Homo sapiens: one gene and its partners. The protein of the gene in region 3 purifies or fractionates together with the protein of the main gene of each other region. This does not show direct contact. Each region holds a gene or a part of one and is shown on either strand. Other genes may lie near its edges.

Evidence for each region.
Region 1: the proteins of ADD2 (region 3) and ROCK1 purify together in Homo sapiens (affinity purification with mass spectrometry; 2 studies listed by BioGRID and IntAct, with this or other methods). This does not show direct contact.
Region 2: the proteins of ADD2 (region 3) and VPS13A purify together in Homo sapiens (affinity purification with western blotting; one study listed by BioGRID). This does not show direct contact.
Region 4: the proteins of ADD2 (region 3) and ALDH16A1 purify together in Homo sapiens (affinity purification with mass spectrometry; one large-scale study listed by BioGRID and IntAct). This does not show direct contact.

The regions. Positions count from the first base shown.
Region 1 is NC_000018.10:21,100,780-21,105,796, reverse strand, and holds part of ROCK1 (rho-associated protein kinase 1), read left to right. Parts: intron 1-5,017. UniProt on the Homo sapiens protein: Protein kinase which is a key regulator of the actin cytoskeleton and cell polarity.
Region 2 is NC_000009.12:77,313,051-77,318,067, reverse strand, and holds part of VPS13A (intermembrane lipid transfer protein VPS13A), read right to left. Parts: intron 4,077-5,017; coding exon 3,949-4,076; intron 3,574-3,948; coding exon 3,404-3,573; intron 2,816-3,403; coding exon 2,598-2,815; intron 1,895-2,597; coding exon 1,662-1,894; intron 463-1,661; coding exon 370-462; intron 1-369. UniProt on the Homo sapiens protein: Mediates the transfer of lipids between membranes at organelle contact sites. Binds phospholipids. Required for the formation or stabilization of ER-mitochondria contact sites which enable transfer of lipids between the ER and mitochondria.
Region 3 is NC_000002.12:70,757,328-70,762,344, forward strand, and holds part of ADD2 (beta-adducin), read right to left. Parts: intron 1-5,017. UniProt on the Homo sapiens protein: Membrane-cytoskeleton-associated protein that promotes the assembly of the spectrin-actin network. Binds to the erythrocyte membrane receptor SLC2A1/GLUT1 and may therefore provide a link between the spectrin cytoskeleton to the plasma membrane.
Region 4 is NC_000019.10:49,455,742-49,460,758, reverse strand, and holds part of ALDH16A1 (aldehyde dehydrogenase family 16 member A1), read right to left. Parts: intron 3,944-5,017; exon of another isoform or gene 3,836-3,943; coding exon of another isoform or gene 3,833-3,835; intron 2,274-3,832; coding exon 2,171-2,273; intron 1,800-2,170; coding exon 1,673-1,799; intron 1,090-1,672; coding exon 911-1,089; intron 1-910.

The DNA.
Region 1 (5,017 bases), on a different chromosome or scaffold from region 3:
TTAGTCTTTTGTTTCAAACCTTAAATATCTGACTGCCTTGTAAGCATTTCTACTTGGATGTCATGTTAGTCTCAAATCCCTCATATTCCAAAACAAGCTTCCTCCCATAAACTTATCTGTTTTGTCATTAATTCCACTATTGTCCCTGTCGCTAAACTGAAATTTTTGTTGTGAACTTTTTTGACAGTGTTAGTCCACACATTGGGTTATTACAGCAGATTTTGGGTAGCATTTTCGAATCTGGATTATTGCTGTCTAATCCCCTGTATGCCTTGCCAGTTGAATTGATCTGTTTTGGGGGTATATTACTCTTGGAATGAAAAGACCTGAGGTCATTAAATCTTTGAGCCTTAAAGTTGTATCTCTGCCAGTGTTCCTAGTTTGTGAGTTAATAGGTGTTATTAGTATCAATTGCATATCTGGTTAGTTTGGACCAGACTTTTTTGGATGTTAGTATGTTGCAGGAACTTCTTTTAAAAAAACAAGTTACTCTCCTAATTCATTTTTATTCATTCAGCAAATCTTTGTATAGGGCCTAAACTTGGATTGAAATCTAGGCTCTGACATGTATTTGCTGAAATATTTTAGGGAGTTATTTTAACCTCTCAATGCTGTTTCATCTTCAGAAAAATAAGAGGGGATAAAAGTACTAGATTGTTGTAAGAATTGAATAATATAGTCAAAGCAACTATCATAGCATTTGGTATTTAGTAAGCATTTGTAATATTGTCATATTTATAATATTTCTGTTATATACTAGTCAGTGTGCTTAGTCTAGAAGTTGATATTTATTGTCGTCTCTAAGTACAGAGTAATTTATCTGGCACCTCAAGCCGCTCATAAATTCATAATCTAGCTGTGCGTTATTGACGTCTAAGCCAATTGTAACTGAAAATTGAGACATTTATTAATAGATTCAATAAATGGGGAAGATCTTTTAGAGACTGTTTATTTGTTTAGTTGTGATTTATAATATGGTATATACTTTGTGCCAAGGGTTTAGTTGGATATAAAAGGCAATTGGGAACTAATTTATGGAGATTGAGTTGTTATCTTGTTCTCTTTCTGTGTGTATCTTTTATACTTTCAGTGTGTGTTCTGTAAATAGGCCCTCTTGCACTACAGGCACCCTGTGGGTGTGTAGAGACGTGGCTCAGAGTAACGGCTGAGATATGAATTGGTTAATTCATTAATCTTTTGAGTCAGAAATGTTTTTTTTCCGCCCAGTCCGAAGTGCCGTGGCGCTATCTTGGCTTACTGCAAGCTCCACCTCCTGGGTTCACGCCATTCTCCTGCCTCAGCCTCCTGAGTAGCTGGGACTACAGGCGCCCGCCACCGCACCCGGCTAATTTTTTGTATTTTTAGTAGAGACAGGGTTTCACCGTGTTAGCCAGGATGGTCTCGATCTCCTGGCCTCGTGATCCGCCCGCCTCAGCCTCCCACAGTGCTGGGATTACAGGCATGAGCGCCGCACCCTGCCCAGAAATGTTTTTAATCCAGAAGAAGGAACTACATATAAAATTTTATGTTGAATAAAGAGTAAATTCTCAGTTTTAGATTAGACTTTGCATAACTTTACACCAGTTTTGCTTCACGATTATAAGTTTTGGTGTTATGGATATATGGTGAAAACTACAGATTCTATTACGATAATTGATAGAAAAACCCACTTATCAGGAAATATTATATATAGAGTTCTATTGCTGAAGATAATCCAATAGCTCTACTTCTCCATTCCTCATCCCCACTAAAAAGGGGGTATATCCATTTAGTTTAAGTCCACAGTATAGCTGTTGGATACGACACACATGTGTTCAAGAAGATGAACAGGTAGTACTGCAATTCACAATGGAAAGTATTCTTAAAAATATGCCATTAGTGTGGTGTGAAAAGAACACTGGACTGAAAATTCAGAGCATAGTCTTGTTTTGCTATTAAATCTCTGTGTAATGAAGTACATCATTTTTCTCATCTAGGCTTCAGTTTCCCTATTTGTAGAACAAAGAGTTGGACCAGATAGTTGCTGATGTCTCTTGTGTCTCTGAAAATTCTATGATAGGCCTGGCATGGTGGTCTGTAATCCCAGCACTTTTGGAGGCCAAGGTGCAAGTATCCCTTGAGCCCAGGAGTTTGAGACCGGCCTGGGCAACAGAGAGGGACCTCGGCTCTACAAAAAAAATAAAAATATTACCTGGGTGTAGTCTCAGCTACTTGGGAGGTTGAGGTAGGAAGATCGCTTGAGCCCAGGAGATTGAGGCTGCAGTGAGCCATGTTGGTGCCACGGCACTCTAGCCTGGTTGTCAAAGTGAGACTCTGTCTCAAAAAAAAAAAATAATAAAATAAAATTTATTAAACAAAATCTATGAGACTTTGTTTATTACACTTCAATTAAAACTTCAAAAAATTGTCTTTGATTTATTATTTAAGAAATAAAACTTAAACAGTTAAATGATGTTGGGGTAGAAATGTAAGACTGTCAACCATCTTTAGTAAGTGCTTTTTTTGGAACTAGTTCCTAAATTAATTTCAATAGTTATATTTGCCATTATTTTTTGAATTTGTGACTTACGTTCATAATTGTAGGGGTTTGTACTTTCTGAACATAGGAAGTGTAATTTTTTATTTGTATATCTATTAAAATGTAAAGATATGATTTTCTTCTCTAGTATACTTGCCCTCTCTGTTTGGGATTATGAAATATAGAGTGTATTTTTATTACAGTTCCTAAACAATTAATAGGAAGGTAGATGTTCAAATTAACGTCCAAAGTCTGATATCTCAGGGAGGTGAGAGTTTATCTTATACTTGTGTTATATTAAGGGTAGGCCAACCTGTGCCCCTCTTAATTGATCCATACTTCTGATACCAGATTTTTGGCAAGAAATTGAAAATTTTCTCAGATTGTTGTCTTGAACTACTTTTTTTTTTTTTGAGACAGGGTCTGGCCCTGTCACCCAGGCTGAAGTGTGGTGGCATGATCTCAGCTCACTGAAGCCTCCACTTCCCGAGCTGAAGCCATTCTTCTGCCTCAGCCTCTTGAGTAACTGGGACTACAGGCAAGCGCCACCATGCCTGGCTAATTTTTGTATTTTTTTTGGTAGAGATGGGGTTTTGCCATGTTGCCCAGGCTGGTCTCAAGTGAGCCATTGGCCTCAGCTTCCCAAAGTGTAAGGATTACAGGCGTGAGCCACAGCACCCAGCCCTCAAACTAATTTTGAAACAGTGGACTGCAATTAACTTTCCTTTTTCTCTTTTCTGTTATTCATTCATTCATTTGACAAATGTTTATTTGGTGTGTACTGTGTGCTAGGAATTCTGCTATGCAATGGAACACCATGGTGAGTAAAAACAAACATGTCCCACTTTCATGGAATTTATAGTGTCAGGAAAAGGATTAATTAAATGTCTATCACACTAAGATAGGAGTGGGGTATGGTGAAGGGCAGGTAAGAGATATGATCATGACTTTCCTTTAAGGTTTGGTTTACTTGTAGTAAAGCAATTAAGTGTATAGTTTTCAGATATGAGGCTGTAGATTGTATCAGATTCACTTGAGGCACTTGTTAAAAATGGAATCTGGGATCTTGCGTAGACAAACAAAATCACAATTTTTTGGGATGATTCTTAGGATTTGCATGAGATGTGGATTCTTAGACACACTCAAGTTTGAAAACTGTAGTTACAGTGGAAAGAATGTGAATTTTCATTCTGTTTGGTAATTTTATGATAAAAATTTCAAATATACGCAGAAGTAGGGAAAATAGGATAGTGAACTCCTGTTACTCAGATTTTGCAGTTTTCAAAATGTCATCACATTTGATTTCATTAATCACCCTTTTTCTTACCAAAATATTTTAAAGTAAATTCCATATATTGTCATTTCATCCTTACATACTTCAATAAGCATCTTTGAAAAAAAAAAAGGACATTTTCTTACATAATCATAATGGCCATTATCATGCCTAGCAAAATTAAAAGTGCTTTGGTATCATTAATTCCCAGTTTATATTCATATTTCTGATTGTCTAAAACAGTGTCTATTTTACAGTTGCTTTATTAGAATCTGGATCCAAAGTCCAAATGTTGCTTTTCTTTGGTTAGGTCCTTTAAGAGTCTTTTAAGTCTCTTAATATAGAGAAATCTCATTCCCCCAACTTCTCCAACTCCCCTTCCCCTGCATGTTGAAGGAACTAGGTCAGTGGTACTATACAGGACCTTGTTTTACATTCTGGATTTTTCTTTTTACTTTCCTAATGATGTAATTTAACTTCTTCCTGTATTTTCCATATTTCCTATAAAATGGTAGTTAGATCTAAAAGCTTGATTTACTTATTTCAGATTTCTAGTCAAGGGTACTCAATAGATTGTATTTTCTTTTGCCTCACACGGAGGTGCATAATGTCTGCCTGGCCTGTAGTGATGCTAAGGTTGATCATTCTGTTCAGGTGGCATCAGTCTGTGATAGCTTCCTGTAAGAATCGTTCATTAACCTTTCATCTAATGGTTCCATTCATTCATGATCTTTAACTGAATCCCTGTTATTTCATTAGGGAATAGCAAAATAATGATTTTCTAATTCTGTTATTCCTTTCACATTTATTAACTGTAATTCCTCTGTTAAGAGTAGAACTTTTACATATTAATATCAACTAGGGCTGTATGTTTACCATGAAATCCAATTCATGAAATACAGGATGAATACTTCAATCTTTTCCTTAATTGCCACTTGTTATAGCAAGGTATTTTGGAGACTTATTATGATAGATATGCCACAAACTGGGTAACTTGAGGGGAGTTTAAGTAAAGGACTGTTTACAAAGGTATAGATAATATTTAAGGAAACTGGTAGGGATGGTACAGTGCTCTGTGACTAGTCACAGTGAGGAAGGGAGTTGCGATCGCCTCAAGGCCAGCAGGAAACAGGGAAGAGGAAAGCAGCTGAGGAGGGTAGCTCTATGGAAGAGGTCTGTCTGATGGGGAGTGTGCTTTCAAGTAAAGAGGAGCTTGTGGATCAAGT
Region 2 (5,017 bases), on a different chromosome or scaffold from region 3:
GTTATGTGTTTACATGAATCTTGCAGATATTTACATGAATCTTGCAGATATTATTCCATGAATTACATGATATTATTAATATACATGAATTGCAGATATTATTAAACTGATGAAGTATAAAGTAATTTCAATAATATTTATTAGGGATATTAGATGTTAACCACACAAATGTAAATAATAAAATATAGAATAACATTCATAAAATGTGTATTAAATAATATTACTTTGTAAATATCTCATAAAAACGTATTTTCAAAAACACACCTATTTTGTTTGCATAACAATTAAAAGACTTGCTATAATAACTTTCTAGGCTTTACTACTTTTTTTAAGTGCACTAAATATTCAAATGATTATATTTTAATTTACCTTTAGTGTCAGGGATTTTACTGACATATCGATCACTTGTGGATCTGTACCTTTCTGAGTAGTTTGATAAAACAAGTCACAGGGCTGCAAAACCTATGAGAGAAAAATCAATACCACTAAATTAATGTTTAAATATAAAAATATTTCTATTTAAAGACTTTCCTAGTAATAGGTATGTCAAATAAACAAGTTAATAAAAACAACTATTTAAAAAGTGACTTAATAATACACTCCTTAATTATCCCATATAAAGGACATCTAGAACCTAATATCTGTTCTATTCTTCCACAGTAATAGAAGTTTTATCTGAGCACAAGGTAGCTCAGAAAAAAATACCACAGTCTCCAACCTTTACTGAAGTAAAGTGTGGTCATACAGCTATATTCAAGCCAAAAAAGATGTGAATAGAAGAAATATATATTTAAAACTTCTAAGTCAAAAACTAAGAGAGAATTGGTATACCCTCCATTTTCTATTCTCTCTCTTTGCTTAGTGGAGGGCCAACTGTCTTGCAAATTTGGGCAACAGTTTATCTTATATCCTAATATATATGTATTCATTGTATCAAAATTACATCTTATATTTCTATGGTGACAATGTTTAGAACATTTATGCTTCTATAGATGCATACCAAGCATCAGGAAAAAAATACAAAGAAACAAACAAAAACTTATGCTTCTATTACTCCTTCAGAAGCTCAAATATTTTTGTAAGTATTCGCTGGAAGTCAGCCAGTTAACTTGAAAAGATGTCTGTAAAGGAATGAATTTTAAGTAGAGTTATGAAGAGGAGGAAGGCCAAGAGGTTACTAGAGAGTAAAATATCAATGTGAAGTATGTCAAAGCAAATGGCTGAAGGTTCAAATGAAGTTACATGGAGACAAGGAAAAACTCATTATTTGAGCAAAAACATCCAAACGGGAGAAAAAAGTTGAAACAATAAAATTGAAACAACACAGCAAACAACTGGCAGAAAGTCTTAAAAGTCCAAAGAGCAATTTGGAATTGACATGGTTAGAAAGTCAAAGTAGATCTTAACTGAAAACTGTCAAGATGAACCCAACTTCTTAGTGACAATATTCCCACAAATACTAACAATAATGAGCAGCATCTGGAAGAATGAAAGAGTTTCAAAGCTGGTAAATAATATTCTAAATTAAGCTCTCTAAGCAGAGAGAAAGACATTTTACAGAGCAAGGTTGGAAAGCATGTAGGTAGTTTTTGTTTCCTAAAATGGTATACACTACATCCAAAATAGTTACAATTAAGCAGATGATCAAATAGTTAACTCACAGTAGTGATTTTGCCTTTTCTCTTGACTGGAAGAAACGGGCAGGCTCTCACTTGGAGATCTTTAATGGCAGCAGTCATTGTACTATTTTCAAGGTTACCTTTATAGCAAATTTCACATTGTGTTGTAATGACTAAAGCAGGAGCATCATTTTTTGTCATGTCAGCTACAAACACAATTTCAGGATTTTTAATAATAACATTAATTTCCCACTTCACTGATTCCTGTGTAGGTACTAAAACAAATAAAAATAGATTAAAATATTTGCTATATATTATGAATAATTTATTATTTATAAGAAAATATTAAAATGAAATAATAGTAAAAAGTAAAACAAAAGAATCTTAGATCCCAAAGGAATCAACTACAACCCTTAGTAAAGACTTGAAGAAGCTATAGGCATAAGAACATTTTTAAATGAGGGGAAATCTCCACTATTTAATTGGAAAGCCTAGAAACTAATCTAGTTTCTAACTCTCAACTTGATACTCTTTCTACTATACCACAGTAAATCACATATTATAAAAAGATAATAGAGAAACCGTACGTTAAAAGCTAGGAATAAATACAACAAAAATAAATGAGTGCTTTAAATTGAAATATTATCTTAATTGTGAAAAGGTATGGTTGGTTCATTATTTGCTCTGCTTGTTTTTTTCCACTAGACAAATTCCTTCAAATTACTGCCTGAAGAGAAGTACAATTACTTATTCTAACATAGGTTTCATAATTTTTAAATGCAATATATACTGACACCTTTAAAAAATGCAAACTATACATCCTCCAAGAAAACACATTAAGGTTTTCCTTCTACTCTGAAAAATAAAATTTTAATTTCTTAAAGCATTTACTTTGATGATCTAAAAGGCTAATCAAGGTTAAGTCCTGTTGTAGCACTTCAATAAAACAAATATTAAATATTTTAGCCAATAACTAACCTTCTTCCTTAGCAGTCCATGTTTGCACACTGGTTTCTACAGCAGTGCCTGTGGTGTAGGCCTCAAGAAAGACATTTGCAACAGTCTGCAGAAATTCTACGCTTGCACAAATATACATTTCTTGAAAGACCGCATCAGTCACACAACCATCTCTGACTTTCCTGTACTTTATATCCATCATGTCTTTTTTGTCAAAACCAACTGTCAGTCCTATCATTCTGGAAAACACAATAACAACAATTCCTATGTATGAGTAACTTAGAAGTAATCAAACATATGAGTAAAACTCAAAGACCTCTTATCTCTTTTACTGACAAAAAAAAGCATTCTGAAGTCATGTCTCTTGGGAAGATCCATAAAGTGTTCCAAATAACAAACTTACAAACTTCTGGAACACAAATGTATCATAAATGAGGAAGTGTATGTTCAATAAATTATAAGAGTTTGAATCTCAGGATATTTTTTCTTTTCAATTTTTTATGTACTTCCCATTGCAATTAGCATGGATTAACAATAACTTATATTAGATTTATATTAGAGAATGTAATTTAAAGAATGTAAAAACCAATTTAATTGCACTGATTATTTCTAGTTACTCAACCAATCTATCAATTATCCAGTAAGAATAGTACATAACAGAACCAGGACATTTTAAATGTTAACCGAGTACTACGAGCTGACTGAATTGAAGCTTTAAAGAACCTAGGATGCACTCAGAAAATGAACGTGCAATTCTGGAGATGAATTCTGTAAAATATATCAACGATTTCTCAAGTAAAACCTTAGAACATCATTACAATACATACCGAGGAGTTGCTTTCTTGACATGAGGTCTTTTATCATCTAAAATACAGTTTTTTAATGAGAAGGAAGAAAATGTTGAGCCATCTGTATACATTTTTAAAGTACTTATAATATTCTCCAATTTAAATTCAGCAAGTTTCAGAGAAGGATCACGAACATCTGTAAAGGAAGCCTATGAAAGGAGAAACCAACACAAAATTACAAAGAAACACAAGTCTAAAGTGTATTTCATGATATGAACTACTACAAATTATTGCCTCTGCTTATAACAAACATCAAAATTCTGTCTCCGAAGGGCTCTAATGAAAGGCTAAAAATATATACATATCACTTTAATTTTACAATTTATTTTTCACATTAGCTATATGATAGATAACTCATTTAAAAGGGAAATAGTTATAATTATTATTAAAGTAAAAAGATCATTTTTCTCAGAGGGACAGATACTACAAAATAAATGTTAAATATTAACATTTGTTACTTTAAAAACATCAACCTATGCAAATTTCACATGTGAAAATACATTTTCTTTTCTTCCTGGACTTACCTGTTTAGGACCTGGACTATACAGCACCATGGTGAGATCATCAGTTTTGAAGCTTATGTTTAGTGTTGTCTTAACTAGTAAGGCACGTGAATGTACTTCTACCACAGCAGCTGTCACCACAGTTGCTCCTTGAAAAAATTAAAGTTATTTAATAAAAGAAAATATCATGAAAAGTAGCTCATTAAAATACCCTTGAAATAGATTTAATAGAATTATTAAACAGGTATAGTAAAATGACATTCAAGAAAATAAAATATTAGAAAATTCAGATGTAAAACTCAGTAACTTCTGGCTTAGGACTCTTTCCATAATAATTTGGGAATATTAATTGAACACTTGGTGTTTCTATTTCCTCTTGATGCTTCTGTTCCTACTTCTGTTCTGTTCCAAGGAAAAATAGAACTAATCACTGAGTATGTTTGGAGATTAAGTAAAATAGCACATGTAAAATGCATATTACAGTAACTGGCACATAATTCAGTATTCAAATTTTACTTTAAAAAACTAAAACCAAGAGACATTTTTAAAATTTTTCTACTAATCAGAAGAATTCAAAATTTGTTTTCTACATTTGAATTTTGAATCAAGGCATTATATGCACATATTAAATGAGCTTAAAATGAAAACGCAGCACTTTCTAATTCTCATTATATCTAACTTCAGAGAAAAGTACCATTATGCCAGGTAATGTATTTTCAATTGTGATAAAAATTTACATACAATGAAATACATGTATCTTATATGAACTATTTGATGAAATTTGATAAGTGTATATTTCCACATAGTCACTACTTCAATTAAGATACTGAACACTTATATCCCTCCAGAAAGTTCCCTCTTAACACTTGCTAGCCAATTCCCAACCTCTCTACCATTCTAATTTCAATCATCATAGACGAATTTTGTATATTTTTTAAATTCCATATAAATGGAGTAATACAGATTGTACTATTTTGTGTGTGGCTTCTTTCAGTCAAAATAATGTTTCTGAGATTCAACCATGTTGCTGCATGTACAAGTAGTTCACTCTTATAGCTAGTCATGCACTCTATGGAATGAAATAGTTTAT
Region 3 (5,017 bases):
AGAAGCCCTTCAGTCCTATTTGATTCATTAAGTATGAACAAGTGTTGCCTTAAAAACTAAAAGTTTGGGGACAGGAGACGAATAAAGAAAAATAATGATATATTTTATGAAATAAGAGAGAGGAAGTCTCACACACAGTATGGTGGGAATGAGTGTGGAATGGTTAAGCTGGATACTGCATAACTATGGTAACAGACGTAGCTAATTTAAGACACAAATGAGGGTGTTGGAAAGATTTAAGAGAAATATGGTGTTAAGAGGGAAGGAGAATAAATTCTAAAAAAAGGGATGCTGAGATAATCAGTATGGATGCTCTGCCATCTGACATGAGGAAAGCAGGAAAGAATCAAACCCGCCCTCACTTTTCCTGTCCTGTCTTTTCACGGTAGATTTTTGAAAGTAAACCCCTAGATATTCTTATGGAGACTCCATGCCGAGTAAAGAAAGCAAACATGATAAAATTCATACTCAATAAAATAACACAAGCAGAAAATCACATCCATTGTTAAATGAAATTGTTTCATAAAGCCTCCATGCATTTCAAAGTTTAATAACTTCATTTGTTCTTTGAGAAAAACAATTTAAAAATAACATTCAAATGCCCTTGTATTGATTTTCCCTTCAATAAAATGATTCACAATCAAGCACAAACATTTAACGACCCTTTCAAAATTCCACAGAAAATTACCGAAGGAACGTAAAAATAGGAACAAATCTCCATCACTTCTGGTTACCAGGGAGGCTGCCATTCACGCGGCAGGAACTGTGAGGGATCGACATCTTTATAACATCGGTTCTTCCCATCTGGGAACATGACATTCTGTTTCTTGAGTAAATATTGGTAATGCATATTTTCAGTGGAAATAGTCCATTTCATCAAGATTTTCACAGATGATGGGATACAATAATGCACAATGTTCTTGAGATTTTACATCTTTTCTCCATGCTGCTCCATATGTCATTTCTAGCTTTGTGAATTTTTTTGCCTTTGTATCTTAATTAGGCTTTCTGGAAGTTTGCCTATTTTATTGGCTTTCTAAAAGAACTAACTGGCTGGATAAAAGGTGGGGAGAGGGCATATAAGGAGGTGGAAAGAGTTGTTTTGGAAGGGTTGGGAGGGTGGGAAAGCATGTTCAGAAAAATGGAGTAGTTCAGCCTACCTAGAGGGTAGAGCGTAAAGGAAAAAGAGGAAAAGCAGTTGAGGCAGGTAAGGAGCTTGGGCTTTATCCGGAGGGTAGAGAAATGATGAGATTAGATTTTTGTTTTAAAAAGATCAACTATGCAACATAGTGAGACCTCGTCTCTACCAGAATTTTAAAAAAAATAAGCCAGGCATGTTGGCATACACTGTACTCCCAGCTACTTGGGAGGTTGAGATGGGAGGATTGCTTGAGCCCAGGAGGTTAAGGCTGCAGTGAGCCATGATTGCACTGCTGCACTCCAGCCTGGGCAACAGAGCGAGACCTTGTCTCAGAAAAACAATAATAATAAACTATGGATGGAGGAAGACTGGGCTGGAAGCAGGGAAGAAGGTGGGGGGACTCTAAAGTAATCCAGAGTTTCAGCCAGGGGCAGTGTGGCCATATGAAACAGGAACCCAAGCAAAGTAGCCCAGGCAGAATGGAAGGCAACATCGACATGGAAACCAAAGTCTAGCCTGGACTCATGGAAACTACTAGAATTGTCATCAATTCAGGGAGCCATGGGGATGGGGTGAAGGATGTCAAATGGTCCTTAGAGCTGCTACTGATAGAAGCCACAGGGATTTACTACTTGGCTTAGAAAGTTTTTTTCAGCCACTTCACAGCTGGAAAAAAGGCACAGAGAAAACCATTCCAGGCATTAAATGGAGCACTGAAATTTGTATTCAGGTACCTAGATCCTAAGCTCCCTGGCCTCCAGATCCTGCCCTGGAAGCTTGCAGGATGAGGCCCTATGTTAGATCAAATACATTACAGGTATTTACTGCTGGGTGGAATAGCGTTTATTTACATACTTTTGTATCTTTATTTTTAGCTGCATCTGGTGAAGTGATCAGAATCAACCTTGTTTGAAGCTGGATATATTAAATCCCCACTTTACTGGGAGCTCCCTCAGCACATGTCTGAGGAACTGAGGGTGCTGTGGTTTGGATATTTGATCCCTCCAAAGCCCATGTTGAAGGAGGGGGTACCTGGTGGGAGGTGTTTGGGTCATGGTGGTGGATCCCTCATGAATGGCTTGGAGCCATTCTTGCAGTAGTGAGTGAGTTCTCACTCTTTTCATTCCCATGACAGCTGGTTGTTAAGAAGAGCCTGGCATCTCCTCCCCTCTCTCTTGCTTCCTCTCTTGCCATGTGATCTCTGCACACGCCAGCTCCCCTTTGCTTTCTGTCAGGAGTGGAAGTGGCCTGAGGCTTCCACAAGCTGCCCAGTCTTCCAGCCAGTAGAATCATGAGAAAAGTAAACCTTTTCTCTATAAATTACCCAGCCTTGGATATTCCTTCATAGCAACACAGGCAGACTAAGATGGGGATCTGCCACTCAAGGTGGCAGTGCTGATAGATTTCCCACGGCCCTTAGATTTATATCCCTCATCCCCACCCCACTGACCATACCACAGCCCATCTAGCCCTGTTTCATTGAGCCTGGGGATACTAGCACTCAGCTGAGAGGACACCACTGCTTCTTCCCAGGAAAGCCCCTTGTTGATACTCATGGGCTGGGTGATATTGGCTGGCACCATCTGTACTCTAACTTTTACAGAGTCCTTAAAGAATCTAGGCCCAGTGTTTGTTCTCTTCTCTAAAACTCAAATCGATGTTTTCCTTACTATATTTGTCTTTGGACACTTTGAAGAAAAGAAAGGCAAATATTTAGGTCCATGGTGCCATCTTGAAACCTACACGTGCGTGTTTATAACCCTGAACCTGCAACTCAGATCTCGGGTCCCAGCCATGACACATGCATACGTCTGCCTCTCTGCTGGCCATCCCCACCTCAAACTCGTCTTGTCTAAAACTGACCACTGTCTTACACAAACCACTTCCTTCTTGGCTGTGCTGGATTCCCCAATTTAGAGCACCAAGCAAAGTAGGGCTCCAAATATTCTTGGAATAAATTTGATATATATTTTTTGAAGCATCAAAGTAGTCACCATGGAGATGTTATAACAATGAATAAGATACAAATGGTACAGTTCTAATTTTTTAAAGTTTCAGAGAAACAAGTCTGATGTACTTTGTTTGAGGATGCAAATTTAGATTATAAAATTATAAAAGCAAGCAAGAAAATGGTTACCATAAAAGGAAGGTGAGTTGTTACCTCCAGGGGGAAGCAGGGTGTGGTTCAAGGGTGCACTGGGCTCTGGGAGCTGGCTGTGTCCTGCTTCTTGACCTGCATGGTGGTCACACGGGCATTCACTTTATAATATTTCACTAAACTGCACATTTGTTTCATGTCCTTTCCTATATCTGTGTTATGTTTTATATATTTTAAGGTTTTTTTAAATAAAGTAGTCATTACAAGGGAAAGAAACAAAACTTTTGTGGACTTTCATAGTTATTTTGATAAAGTTGGCCACAACTTATCTTCCATCATACAAAATGCCAGAAGACAAAAGAATAATATTTGGAGTTTTTAGGTAAAAAGATTAAGATGAAGAAGTGTATGCCCCAAAAGGATGATGTTACTGTGAAACAGCAACATAAAGAAGTTCTTAGGCAAGCAAGAACTACCGGAATATACTATCTTTCCTGAAAAAGATTCCAACTAATCAAGGAATAAGTAAAAATGAAGATTGAGCATAGGAAATGGACTGAGTATTGTAACCTATGTAACTCTCAGTCTAGATAGCAGCTGTTAGTATGGTTAGGAAACATAAATGTCAAAAATAATTCTGGAAAGCAAAAGCATGCATTACTTTTTTTTTTTTTTAAAGACAATAATCTGGATCTAAAAGCCAAAATGTTTTTAAGGCAAAAAGTTAGTGGGGGTAGATGGGCAACAAAAAAGAAATTAAAGCTGGGCACAGTGGCTTACACCTGTAATCCCAGCACTTTGGGAGGCCGAGGTGGGTGGATCACCTGAGATCAGGAGTTTGAGACCTGCCTGGCCAACATGGTGAAACCTGGTCTCTACTAAAAATACAAAATTAGCCGGGCGTGGTGGCAGGTGCCTGTAATCCCAGCTACTCAGGAGGCTGAGGCACAAGAATCACTTGAACCCAGGAGACAGAGGTTGCAGTGAGATGAGATTGTACCACTGCACTCCAGCCTGGGTGACAGAAAAAAAAAAAAAAAAAAGGAAGGAAGGAAGGAATTAAAGTATACTAAATCTCTCATTATTTATGAAAGAACAAATAGACACAACTTTTTTTTTTTTTGAGACAGAGTATCGTTCTGTTGCTCAGGCTGGAGTGCAGTGGTGCAATCTCGGCTCACTGCAAGCTCTGCCTCCCGGGTTCATGCCATTCTCCTGCCTCAGCCTCCCGAGTAGCTGGGACTACAGGTGCCCGCCACCACGCCTGGCTAATTTTTTGTATTTTTAGTACAGACGGGGTTTCACCATATTAGCCAGGATGGCCGATCTCCTGACCTCACGATCTACCCGCCCTGGCCTCCTGAAGTGCTGGGATTACAGGCGTGAGCCACCGCGCCTGGCCAACACAACTATATTTTTTAATGTTAATGAAGACTAGTAGAAAAAAATGGGCAGAAAATTTCCCTTTTATCTAAAGAACAAGGGACTCTTACACTACATTTAAGTTAAGAAAGGGGGTGGAAAAATAGCTTGGAATTTTTTTAATGTAAAATAAAATTTTAGAAGATCTGTGACTGTATCACATATAATAAATGTAAATTGAGTCACAATTGGATTAAAAATCCAATTATGATGCTTAAAATAGACAAAAATCAAAATGACGTAAAAGAAGAAAGCTTAAGAAGAAAGAGAATGAGCATCACACCAGGGAAATGGAAACAGAAAGAAGGCAGGACCAGATTTCTTATCACACAGTAAAATTTAAGACAAAAATAAAA
Region 4 (5,017 bases), on a different chromosome or scaffold from region 3:
ACATGGCAAGACCCCATGGCTACATTAGGAAAAAAAAAAAAAAATGGCCGGGTGTGGTGGCTCACGCCTGTAATCTCAGCACTTTGGGAGGTCGAGGTGGGCGGATCACCTGAGGTGGGAAGTTCGAGACCAGCCTGACCAACATGGAAAAACCCCATCTCCACTAAAAACACAAAATTAGCCAGGCGTGGTGGTGCATGCCTGTAGTCCCAGCTACTCGGGAGGCTGAGGCAGGAGAATCACTTGAACACGGGAGGCGGAGGTTCCAGTGAGCCGAGATCGCACCACTGCACTCCAGCCTGGGCAACAAAGAGCGAAACTCCATCTCAAAAAAAAAAAAAACAAAAACAAAAACTAGTCAGGTGTGGTGGTGCATGGTCGTAGTCCCAGTTACTTGGGAGGCTGAGGTGGGAGGATTTTGAGCCCAGGAGGTCGAGGTATCAGTGAGCTATAATTGCACCACTGTACTCCAGCCAGGGTGACAGAGAAAGACCCTGTCTGAAAAAGAAAAAAACAAAAACAAAAACAAAAGAAAAAGAATGAGGGGACCGGGCACGGTGGCTCATGCCTGTAATCCCAGCACTTTGGGATGCCAAGGCAGGTGAATCATCTGAGGTTAGGAGTTTGAGACCAGCCTGACCAACATGATGAGACCCCTCTTCTCTAATAAAAATATAACAATTAGCCAGGTGTGGTGGTGGGTGCCTGTAATTCCAGCTACTCAGGAGGCTGAGGCAGGAGAATCACTTGAACCCGGGAGGCGGAGGTTATAGTGAGCCAAGATTGCGCCACTGCACTCCGGCCTGGGCGACAAGAGCGAAACTCTGTCTAAAAGAAAAAGAATGAGGGGACTGGAGCTAGCACTGCTGAGTCATGTGGGAGGATAGGGCTAGGGACTCCAGGGTCTCACCCATGGGCTCCCAGCCTGCCAGTGCCTCCTCCTGGGTGGATGCCTGGATTGCATGGTAGTGGAGCAGCTGCTGGGCCAGCTGGACGTCCCCGTCTCGAACCTCTCGAACAGCCCGCCCAGTCACCAGGGATTCCAGGGTCCACAGCAGCCGCTGGTGCTTCTGGATCACCTCGGCCAGCCTGTCGAGAAAGCAAGAGGGTGCTCATTTTCCAACGGCCCTCAGCCTTGCAGAGTCCTGGGCTGCTCCTATATACCTGGACTACAATCCCCATGAGCCCCTGAGGCATCCCCACCATTTACCTGGGGCAGAGGGCAGTGAAGATTTATGAGAATTATAGTCATGGAAACACAAACCCTGAGGATGCTGTGTAAAGGTCTTGGCCGCCGGAAATCCCTGAAGCTTTTGGGAAATTGAGTCTTAGCTTCTAACCTCAATTGCGTTTTGGGAAATGGAATTTTTGTCTCTAGCTTCCCCGCAAGCGGCTAGGAAATGGATTTAGGGGCTTCACCAGCCCCAGTGAACTGAGCCCCAATGCACTCCAAGAATGTCCTGGGAAATAGAGGCTTTGTGGCTTCTAGTCCCAGTGAATAGTGGACAACGGATGCATGTTTCAGCCACGACTGCCTCCAGCACATACTGGGAATCTGAGCCTTAGCTGCAAATTAATTCAGTGGGATCTTGGGAAATAGCCTTTGTTCCCATGGTCTCGAGTGGATGCTGGGGTTCCCCGCCTCCCGGGGTCCACACCTCAGCTGCATCACCTGGTCAGGTGCTGGGCCCGGACGACGCCGGGGTGCGCACTCCAGCCCTTAAATGCCATCCTGGCTGCCTCCACGGCTGCAGCCACATCCTCGGCCTGTGCCTGCAGGCAACTGGCCAAGTTCTCTCCTGGGGAGAAAAGTGGGGGGACTCAGATGGGAGGAGTAGCCCATGTCATATCTGGAGGGGGCTGAGATTTTCGGAGCCTGGATCAGCCCAAGAGTGTAAAGCTGGTCCCCATTCTCTGCTGGGTCACGGCTATGATCACCTCCAGGGCAAGGAAGCTATTTTAACAGACAGCAGTCTCACAAAGCCTCCACAGAGACCCGGAACCATAATTAGGGTGACTGGTTTCAGAAGGAACCAGACATCGCAGCCCATCTCCCACCACCAGCTGTTTCCTGCCCTCAGGGCCCTAGGCAAGGGGAATGGGTGTTGGTGGGTAGGGCTAGAGGGCACAGATACCTCCCTTCCACTAATGACTGGGGGACATCTCGTACCTGTGATGGGATCCTGGCAAGGCACTGAATTTCTGTGTTCAGGCTTTAACCACTTCCCATTCACATAGTGGCCCAAGCACCGGTCCTGGGTGTCCAGCCAGGCCTGGGGGAGGTAGAGACAGTTTGGAAAGGGGTTCGGGAGGAGCTGGGGCAGTTCAACCCCTACCCAGAATCCTCTAGGAGGGGACGTCTGTCTCCCTCTGCCCCATCAGCTAATTCTTTTCCTCCTATTGCTTTAAAAAAAAAGTTTGTGGTAAAATAGAGCATTTCAAAGTGTATAGTTCAGCAGTTTAGTGGCATTCTGTGCATTTACAGTGTTGTGTAACCATCACCACTCTAGTTCTAGAACATTTTTTCATTTTTTTTTTTTGAGACTGAGTCTTGCTCTGTCACCCAGGCTGGAGTGCAGTGGCATGATCTCAGCTCACTGCAAGCTCCGCCTCCTGGGTTCACGCTATTCTCCCGCCTCAATCTCCTGAGTAGCTGGGACTACAGGCGCCCGCCACCACATGCGGCTAGTTTTGTTTTTGTATTTTTAGTAGAGACGGGGTTTCACCATGTTGGTCAGGCTGGTCTTGAACTCCTGACCTCAAGTGATCTGCACGCCTTGGCCTCCCAAAGTGCTGGGATTATGGATGTGTCAACATCTTTAATTCATTCAATTAGGGTCTCAACTGAGTCCTTGGGCTGGTGCCACAACAGTGGCACCTATTTGGAGTCCACTTTGGGAGGCCGAGGTGGTCTGAGCCTAGGCATTCAAGACCAGCCTGGGCAACATGGTGAAAGCTCATCTCTACAAAAAATACAAAAAGTTAGCCGGGTGTGGTGGTGAGTGCCTGTAGTCCCAGCTACCTGGGAGTCTGAGGTGGGAGGATCACTTGAGCCCAGGAGGTAGAGGCTGTAGTAAGCCAAGATCACGCCACTGCACTCCAGCCTGAGTAACAGAGCAAGGCTCTGTCTCAAAGAAAAAAAATTTTTTTACCACATCTCACTCACCACATCTCCTCCATATTTCTTTCTTTCTTTTTTTTTTTTTTGTTTGAGACAGAGTCTTGCTCTGTCACCCAGGCTGGAGTGCAGTGGCGCGATCTCTGCTCACTGCAAGGTCCGCCTCCTGGATTCACGCCATTCTCCTGCCTCAGGCTCCCGAGTAGCTGGGACTACATGCGCCTGCCACCACGCCTGGCTAATTTTTTTGTATTTTTAGTAGAGATGGGGTTTCACTGTGTTAGCCAGGATGGTCTTGATCTCCTGACCTCGTGATCCGCCCGCCTCGGCCTCCCAAAGTGCTGAGATTACAGGCGTGAGCCACTGCGCCCGGACTTCTCCTCCATATTTCTTTCTCATCCTGGTCACGTCTTCCCTGATGCTAAATCCAAAGCACACTGCTCACTTGCTCCTTCTACAGACTCCCCTAGCATCTCTGATGTCACATATTCCTGATTTTTCTCTTACTGGCCCTTCTTTCTTTTTTTTTTTTGAGATGGAGTCTTGCTCTTGTCTCCCAGGCTGGAGTGCAATGGTGCGATCTCAGCTCACTGCAACCTCCGCCTCCTGGGTTCACGTGATTCTCCTACCTCAGCCTCCCAAGTAGCTGGGATTACAGGCGGCCGCCACCATGCCCAGCTAATTTATATATTTCTAGTAGAGATGGGTTTTTACCATGTTGGCCAGGCTGGTCTCGAACTCCTGGCCTCAGGTGATCCACTCGCCTCGGCCTCCCAAAGTGCTGGGATTACAAGCATGAGCCACTGTGCCTGGCTTCTCCTTTCTCTTTAAAGCAAAAAAGTTACTTAGAAGTTCCAAACTCAAACGCCCACAGGGAGAGAGACATCTGTGAGAAAGTCAGGGATATTTGAACATGAACTGGGCATCAGATGACATTAAAGAATGATTGTTGGCCGGGCATGGTAGCTCACATCTGTAATCCCTGCACTTTCCCACGCTGAGACGGGAGGATTGCTTGAGCTGAGGAGTTTGAGACTAGTCTGGACCTACACAGCAAGACCCCATCTCTACAAAAATAAAAGTAAAAAATTTGCCAGTCATGATGATGCACACTTGTAGTCTCAGCTAGTCAGGAGGCTGGGGTGGGAGGATTGCTTGGGTCCAGGAGTTTCAGGCTGCAGTGAGCTATGAACGCTACTGAATGCTAGCCTGGGCGACAGAGTAAGATCCTGTCTCAAACAAACAAACAAAAAACAAAAAGAATGACTTAATGTTAAGTGTGGTAACAGACCATGGTAGTTTTGTAACAAAATGAGCCCTTATCTGTTAGAAGAAAGGATTCAAATATTTATAGGAAAATACTGTGACATCCAGGATTTGTTTAAATTACTCCAAAGAAAATACAGAAGGAAACAGCGCTGGGATAAATGTTGATGATGGTTGAGGCACAGTGATGGGTAAACAGGAGTTCAAAATAAATGCTAATTATTCTGTGCAAGTTGGAAAGCTTCCCCCCAAAAGAAAAACAAAATTCCAAAAGAATGTCCAGAGGGTTCCAGGAGGCCTGAGAAGAGGGCCTGGATGAGAAGAGGAGCTTAACGATTCATGGAAAAGACAGGAGCTATTGGTCCCAGATGACTTTTGTCAGGGAAGTTGAGCCAAATGTTGACACATTTTGGAATTTTATTTTCAAGAGGACCTCCCGGATGTTTACATGGAATCAATTGTCCAGCATTTCACATAAAAAAAAAATAAAGTTCACGCCAAAGAAAACATGTTTGTTGGTTGAGTCTGGCCCAGAGACTGTACGGTTGAGAACTTTGCTGGTGTAGGCAAGACCACGGGTCTGAAATGCAAGGACTCAAGTCCAAGTCTCAACTTCACTTTTTATGTTTTATT